2 separate regions of the Homo sapiens genome follow, and region 1 is linked to region 2. The links come from fine-mapping of genetic effects on gene expression. A gene starts in region 2. The other region holds a variant in brackets. All regions are shown on one strand. Distances are from middle to middle.

Region 1 (4,525 bases), 44 kb after region 2:
AGGAACCACTGATCTACTTCCTGACTCTATGTATTTGCCTGTTCTGGACACTATAAATGGGATCATATATGTGGGTCTTTTGTGTCTGCCTTCTGCTAGTTAGTATAATGTTTTCAAGGTTTATCCATGTTGTAGCCCGTGTCCATACTTCATTCATTTTATAGCTGAATAATATTCCATTGTATTGATAGATGACATTTTGTTTATCCATTCATCAGTTGATAGACATTTGGGTTGTTCCCACTTTCCAGCTATTATGAATAATGATACTATGAGCATTCATGTATGAGTTTTTATATGAACATGTTTTCAATTCTCTTGAGTATATACCTAGGAATGGAATTGCTGAGTCATATGAGAATTCCATTTTTAGCTTTTTGAGGAGATGACAAAATGTTTTCCAAATCATGTGGCTGAATAATTTTGCTTTCTCACCAATAATGCATGATATGAGGGTTCCAATTTCTCCACATTTCCCCCAACACCTGTTATTGTCTGTCTTTCTGATGATAGTTATTCTGGTGGGTGGGAAATGATATCTCATTGTGGTTTGGGTTTGCATCTTTTCACCTGCTTATTGGTCCTTTACATATCTTCTTGGGAGAAATGTCTGTTCAAATTCTTTGCCCATTTTTAAATTGAGCTATTTGTATTTTACTGTTAAATTGTAAGAGTTTATTATATATTCTGGATACTAGACTCTTTCAGTTATAGAATTTGCAAATATTTTCTTTCATTCTGTGGGTTTTTTTTTTCACTTTTGTGATCGTGCCTTTGGAGCATAAACTTTTTTTTTAATTTATTTATTTTTGAGACAAAGTCTCACTCTGTCATTCAGGTTGGAAGGGAATGGTGTGGTCACGGCTCACTGCAGCCTTTGCCTCCCAGGAGCAAGCTATCCTCCCACCTTAGCCTCGAGTAGCTGGGACCACAGGCACACGCCACCATGCCCGGATAATTTTTTGTGTTTCTTGTGGTAGAGACAGGGTTTCACTATGTTGCCCCAGCTGGTCTCAAACTCCTGAGCTCATGCGATCCATCCACCTTGGCCTCCCAAAGTGCTAGGATTATAGGTGTTAGCCACTGCGCCCAAAAACATTTTTAATCTTGATGAAGTCATTTTTTTTTCAGTTGCTTGTGCTTTGTGTGTGACATCTAAGTAGCCACTGATTATTCCAAGGTCATAAAGATTTGCACCTATGTTTTCTTCTAAGAATGTTACACTTTTAGCTCTTACATTTAGGTCTTTGGTCCATTTTGAGCTAATTTTGTTAAATTATGTCCAACTTCTTTCTTCTAAATGTGGATATCCAGCTATTCCAGCACCATTTGTTGAAAAGACTATTCTTTCCCTCATTGAATTGTGTTAGCATCACTGTTGAAAATCAATTGACAAATGTATGAGTTTATTTCTGGGCTTCCAACTCTATTCAGTTAATCTATACATCTATTCTTATACCAGTGCCTCATGGTCTTGACTACTACAGCTCCTTGTGGTAAGTTTTGAAATTGGGAAGTGTGAGTTCTCCTATTTTATTCTTCTTTTTCGAAATTGTTTTTTCCTATTCTGGATCCCTTGAATTTCCATATAAATTTTAAGATTAACTTGTCAATTTCTGCAAAAATAAAGCCAGTTAGGTTTTCCATAGGAATTGCATTAAATTGGTAGATTAATTTGGGGTGTGTGGATATTTTAACAATATTAAATCTTACAATCCATAAACATAGGATATCTTTCCATTCATTTAGGTTTTCTTTAATTTCCTTCAACAATGTTTTGTAGTTTTTAGAGTATATATTTTGCACTTCTTCTGCTAAATGTATTCATATTTCATTTTTGTGATGCTATTACAAATGGAATTTTTTAAATTTCATTTTGGAGTTGTTAATTTCTAATGTATAAAAATAGAATTGATTTCGTATATTGATCTTGTATCCTCAGTCTTGCTGAACCTATTTATTAGCTATAATAATATATACGTGGGAGTGTCTGGGAATGTATTCCTTAGGATATTTTATATAAAAGATCATGTAATATGCAAATAGAAAGAGTTTTACATCTTCCTTTTCAATCTACATGACTTTCCTTGCCTTTCCTCTCCTTTCCTTTCCTTCCTCTTTCCTCTCTTTCTTCCTTACTTTCTTCCTTTTTTTCTTTTTCCTAACTGCTCTGTCTAGAACTTCCACAATAATGTTAATAGAAATTGCAATAATGTGGCTAGGCACGGTCGCTCACTCCTGTAATCCCAGCACTTTGGGAGGCCGAGGCGGGCAGATCACTTGAGGTCAGGAGTTCGAGACCAGCCTGGCCAACATGGCGAAAACCTGTCTCTACTAAAAATAAAAAAATTAGCCGGGCATGGTGGTGGGTGCCTGTAATCCTAGCTGCTTGGGAGGCTGAGGCTGAGGCAGGAGAATCGCTTGAACCCAGGAGGTTGAGATTGCAATGAGCCAAGGTCGTGCCATTGCACTCCAGCTTGGGTGACAGAGTGGAAAAAAAAAAAAGAAGAAAGAAAAAGAAAGAAAGGAAGAAAAGAAGGAAGGAAGGAAGGAAGGAAGGAAGGAAGGAAAAAGGAGGAAGGAGTGGGCAATAATGAATATGCTTGTCTTGTTCCTCATGTTAGGGAGAACACTTTCAGTCTTTCATTATTATGATCTTAGCTCTGGCTTTTTTTTTTTTTTTTTTTT[G/TG]GTAGGTGCTCTTTATCAGATTTAGGAAGTTCCTTTCTAGTTCCCTAGTTTCCTGAATGTTTTGTTTGTTTGTGTTTGTTTTTGTTTTGTCGAGGCAGCGTCTCCATATGTTGCCCAAGCTGAACTTGAACCCCTGGACTCAAGCAATCCTCTCATCTCAGCCTCCTGAGTAGTTGGTACTACAAGCACATGCCACTGTGCCCAGCATCTTGAGTGTTTTTTATCTTGAAAGTGTGTTGAATTTTGCTACTTTCTCTGTAGCTATTGAGATGATCATGTAGTTTTTTGTCTTTTTCTATTAAAATAGTGTATCACATTAATTGAATTTTGATATGTTGAACCAACTTTGCATTCCTGGAATACACCCCACCTGATTGTGGTGCATAATCCTTTTTATATATTGCTGGATTTGGTTTGCTGGCTTTTTGTTCAGGAATTTTGCATCTATATTCATCAGGAATATTGGTCTATTTTGTTTCGTTTTTCTTGTGATATCTTGGTCTGGTTTCGGTATTAGGGTAATACTGGCCTCAAAATATGAGTTGGGAACTATTCCCTCCCCTTCTATTTTTTGGAAGAGTTTGTGAAGAATTGTTAATTCTTCTTTAAACATTTGATAGAATTCATCAGTGAAGCCATCTGCTCCTGGATTTTTTTTTATAAGAAATATTTTAAGGTATTAATTCAATCTCCTTACTTGTTATAGATCTATTCAGATTTTTTATTTCTTATTGAGTCAGTTTAGTAATGTGTGTCTTCCTAAGAGATTGTCCGTTTCATTTAGATTATCTAATTTGTTGGTATACAATTGTTCATAATATTCCCTCATATTACTTTTATTTCTGTAAGGTCAGTAGACATGCTCTCTTTTTCATTCATTGTTTTAGTAATTTAGGTCTTCTTTCTTTTTCTCTTGATCAGTCTAGACAAAGGTTTGTCAATTATGTTGATGTTTACAAAGAAGCATCTTTTAATTTCATTAATTTTTCTCTATTATTTTATTGCCTCAATTTTACTTATTTCTACTATAATCTTTATGATTTCCTTCCTTCTGCTTTCTTTGGATTTAGTTTCTCCTCCTCCTTTTCTTTCTTCCTCTTCCTCTTTTGTTTTCTTGAAGGGGAAGTTTAGGTCATTGACCTGAGATTTTTCTTCATGTTTAATGTACACACTTACACCTGTAAATGTCCTTCTAATCAACGGCTTCAGCTGCATACCATTAGTTTTAGTGTGTTGTGATTTTGTTTTCTTTCATCAAGGTATTTCCTAATTTCCTCTGTGATTTCTTTTTTGACTCATTGGCTATTTCAGAATTCATTGCTTAATTACCACATATTTGTGAATGTCCCAAATTTTCTTCTATTATTGATTTTTAATTTTCTTCCATTGTGGTCAGAGAACTTAACTTATTATTTCAAACCTGTTACACTTATTGTGACTTTTTTTTTTTTTTTTGAGACAGAGTCTTGCTCTGTTGCCCAGGCCAGAGTGCAGTGGCGTGATCTTGGCTCATCACAACCTCCGCCTCCTGGATTCAAGCAATTCTCCTGCCTCAGCCTCCCGAGTAGCTGGGACTACAGGTGTGCGTCACCATGTCCGCTAATTTTTGTATTTTTAGTAGAGACAGGGTTTCACTATGTTGGCCAGGCTGGTCTCAAACTCCTGACCTCATGATCCACCCGCCTCAGCCACCCAAAGTACGGGGATTACAGGCATGAGCCACCGTGCCCAGCCTTTTCTTTTCTTTTCTTTTCTTTGTTTTTTGTTTGTTTGTCATTTAGAGACAGGATCTTGCCCTGCCACACAGGCTAGAATACAGTGGCATGATCATAGCTCA
Region 2 (4,000 bases):
TGCTAATTCCTCCTCATAAGTAACCTTCTATTGAGTACTTCAGTTTCCTGGGCACCCTGACATTGAGAATACCATACCCAGTATAGCAGACACAAGCAATCCAATCATTTGCAAGGAAAAGCCCCAATGTCCCACGCCAATTCCACTGTATTCAATTGGTATTTCTGTTTCTATAAGGGTGTCTTGGGCTTATGCTTAGGCTAGCTGACCTCCCTCTATTATTTTTATATTTCATTCAGCAAAAACGTACTGACTGCCTTCCATGTACCAAGCACTTTGCCAGATGATGGTGAATAAATGTAATCAAGTTCCAACTGCATCTTAAGCAAAAACAGCAACGCAGCAAAGTGTGGTGAACTCTTTGTGAGCAAAAAGAAATCCAATCTGCCTGAAGCAATGAGCATAAACAGGAACGGTGGGAAAGGGAAATTAGGACCAGTTCACAGTCTTAATCAATAAGCTGCAATGTAATGTGAAAATTTTTAAAACACCTTATTCTGCAGTTAATATCTAAGGCAATTCCTGGCCGGGGGTGGTAGCTCATGCCTGTAATCTAGGCACTTTGGGAGGCCGAGGCAGGAGGATCGCTTGAAGCCAGGAGTTCGAGACCAGCCTGGGCAACACAGCAAAATCACCGTCTCTACAAAATAACAATAATAATGAACTAAGGCAATTCCTTATGGTCTTTAATTTCATTTTAGTCTTCCCTCTGCAGGATCTGAGCACTCAAATACGGGGAGGAAAAAAACAAAAGCCAGGCTGTTATTAACACTCTCTCTTCCAAAGTGACACAGCTGACAACCAGACCCCTTTTTACCTGCCCCTGCAATGGGGATCCTAACTGTTCTCCCCTCTTCCTGACCCTTTTCCTTCTTCCATCCATGTTCCTGGAGCCATATCCCCTTTCTTGAAGCTAATTTTCTTCCTCCTCCCCACTCTCCCCCTCCGCGTTCCCTAAAGAAAGCTGGACCTGGATCCAGTCTAAGTCCCAAGAAAGCTTGGGGAAGCACCTTTGCTTACAGAGAAACTGAGGCCCATGGAAGGAAGAATTAGAGAAGCTGCCTTCAGCTCAGTAAACAGGCGACCTAATTTCACAAATGTAAATGGGGGCACCACCCAAAAACCAAGGACTCAAAGGAGGCAAAGCGTTCTACCAAGTGGGGCTTACTCAAACTCCTTCAACTGGTCTTATCGTCATGATAACTGTTTTTCCAATGCCTGGCTCCATCTCATTCCTTCAGAACTCAGCTTAAATGTCACCTTTGAGAGAGCCCTTCCTGGCCACAATCCAGTGGCCCTGCTCCCATATACGGTCTCAGCACCCACTTTCTATTTCGCTCGCGGCGTCTGCCATGATTAGGACCCTTTGGGATCCCCGCGAGCGTCTCGGGGCGAGGGGCTTGTCCGCCTCACTCGCAGCTGGACGCCCTGCACTCGGAGCGTGGCTGGCTCGCGGGAGGCGCCCGGGCCGCCCGAATGAATGGATGGATGGACGCGAGCGGGCAACGGTCGCCAGGCCGAGCCCGGCGCGTCCCCCGGCGCCGCCTCCCTCGCTCCCGGCCCGCCTCACCCGTCCCCCGGCACCTCCCGCAGCTTCAGCCCCAGGGCCTGCAGCTGGTTGGCGAAGCTGACGAACTCCTCCTCGCAGCCGCCGCCGCCGCCAGACTCCGGCCGATTCCGCCGCTCCTTGGCCAGGGCCCGGCGCGCCGCCCGCTCGTCCCGCTTGCGCTCGGCCTCGGCTTTCCGGCTGCCGCTGCCCGGCCGGCTCTTCGCCGCCTGCTTTCGGGACATGGCCTTAGCCTGCAGTCCCCAGCGGCAGGAGGGAAAGGCGCAGGACCCCCCAGCGTCCGCCTCAAGCGTTGGGAAGGTAAAACAGCGCGGGCAACGGAGCCCGGCGACGACTACGCAGCAACCGCGCCTGCGCCGGCGCCCAGCACCCCGGTCACATGATGGAATCCCCGCCTCTTTTGCGGGGCTCGGCGAGCAGACGCCATAGAGAGCTGGAGGGGCACCCATCTTGGTTTGTTCTATTCCGCCCTCTAGTGGTGGATGGTACTCAACGTGAGTGGCAGGAGCGACCGGAGAGGGACCAGAGAGAACAAAGCAGGAACAAGTCAAGCAGAGAAATTAAAGATGATAGAAGAGTGGAACACAGAGCAGCGGCAAAAGTTAGGACCGGAGATGAATAAAAACGATTTAAACTCTTGCTGCGAGCCTACTACAGTTGGATAGGCACTTTCACACGGCTCATTCTTGTTTAATTATCCCCAAATTACAGGAAACTGAATCTGAGTGGTTAAATAATTTCAAGATCACACAGCTAAAAGGCAGAGCTTTGCCCTGGCTCCAAAGCCCGCATACTTGTTTATTTAATCCTGCCCTTCATCTCTCCGCCTTCCTTCGTAACTCAAGGGAGAGGTCGCCCTTCTGTCCAAGACCACTGGAAATCCTAATTCCATCCTAGAGCGACCCACCTAGGTTTGCCTGGACTAGAGGTTTTCTTGGGATGCAGGACTTTCCGTTTTAAAACTGAGACAGACCAGGCTGGGCGTGATGGCTCACACCTGTAATCCCAGCACTTTGGGAGGCCGAGGCGGGCTGACCACAAAGTCAGGAGATGGAGACCATCCTGGCTAACACTGTGAAACCCCGTCTCTACTAAAAATACAAAAATTAGCCGGGCGTGGTGGCGGGCGCCTGTAGTCCCAGCTACTCGGGAGGCTGAGGCAGGAGAATGGCATGAACCCGGGAAGCGGAGCTTGCAGTGAGCCGAGATTGCACCACTGCACTCCAGCCTGGGGGACAGAGCGAGACTCCATCTCAAAAAACAAACAAACAAAAAAACAAAAACAAAAACTGAGGCCAGGTGCAGTGGCCCACGCCTGTAATCCCAACACTTTGGGAAGCCGAGGCCAGGGGATCGCCTGAGGTCAGGAGTTCGAGACCAGCCTGGCCAGCTGGCCAAGATGGTGAAACCCCATCTATATTGCGTGAGGCTGAGGTTTGGAGTACAAATGAATCTGTCACCCAGGTAGTGAGCAAAGTACACAATACACAATAGGTAGTTTTTCAACCCTTTCCCCCAACTGCCTCCCGACTCTTGTATTCCCCAGAGTCTATTGTTCCCATCTTTGTGTCCATGTGTATCCAATGTTTAGCTCCCACTTATAAGAACGTGCAGTATTTGGTTTTCTGTTTCTGCCTTAGTTCACTTAGGATAATGGTTTCCAGCTGTATCCATGTTGCTGTTCTCCCCTCTTCCTGGACATGATTTTGTTCTTTTTTATGGCTGCATAGTATTCCATGGTGTATATATACCACATTTTCTTTATCTAATCCACTGTTGATGCGTACCTGGGTTGATTCTATGTCTTTGCTATTGTGAATAGTGCTGCAGTGAACATACGGGTGCATCTGTCTTTTTGATAGAACGATATATATTCCTTTGAGTATAGACCCAGTAATGAGATTGCTGGGTCGAGTGGTAGTTCAATTTTTAGTTCTTTGAGAAATCTCCAAACTGCTCTCCACAGTGGCTGAACTAATTTACATTCCCACCAACAGTGTAAAAATGTTCCCCTTTTCCCCACAGCCTCAGCAACATCTGCTATTTTTTCTTTTTAACAAAAGCCATTCTAACTGGCATGAGATGGTATTTCATCGTGATTTTGATTTGCATTTTTCTGATGACAATAAGAATGCAAAAGAGAGTTGTAAAGATTAAATAAAAATGTAAAGCCCCAGGCATGAAGTAAGTACCTATTTAATGAAGTTGTTTGAATCAGTTCTCTGGAAATCTCATGAGCTCAGGGGCAAAGACTTTCAAACTTTAGAAACCAGGGAAGAAAGGTTTCTCACCAGCAAATAAGTAAATACAGACTGCTAACATATTGATAGAAAAGCGAACACTTGCCCGTCTTGTAAAAATCTTTTTGGCTGGGCGTGTGGCTCACGCTTGTAATCCCAACACTTTGGGAGGTGGAGGCGGGCGGATCACCTG

Evidence for each region. PIP is the estimated chance that this variant, and not a neighbour inherited with it, causes the effect. A credible set is the group of variants that fine-mapping cannot tell apart.
Region 1: its variant is the best candidate, but not a certain one, in a credible set for the expression of OTUD3 in NK cells (Schmiedel 2018, PIP 0.53).

The regions. Positions count from the first base shown.
Region 1 is chr1:19,836,312-19,840,836 of GRCh38, reverse strand. No RefSeq gene overlaps it. Among named protein-coding and RNA genes, the nearest start is that of RNF186, 23 kb to the right of the region's middle. The variant G/TG (reference allele first, on the strand shown) is at 2,689.
Region 2 is chr1:19,880,305-19,884,304 of GRCh38, reverse strand. OTUD3 (OTU deubiquitinase 3) reads right to left here and starts at 1,910. Exons shown (of 8, transcript NM_015207.2): 1 at 1,571-1,910. The coding sequence starts at 1,791. All of the region lies in intron 1 of LOC105376823 (a long non-coding RNA gene), which reads left to right. RefSeq lists a silencer at 1,367-1,706 and an enhancer at 2,077-2,126.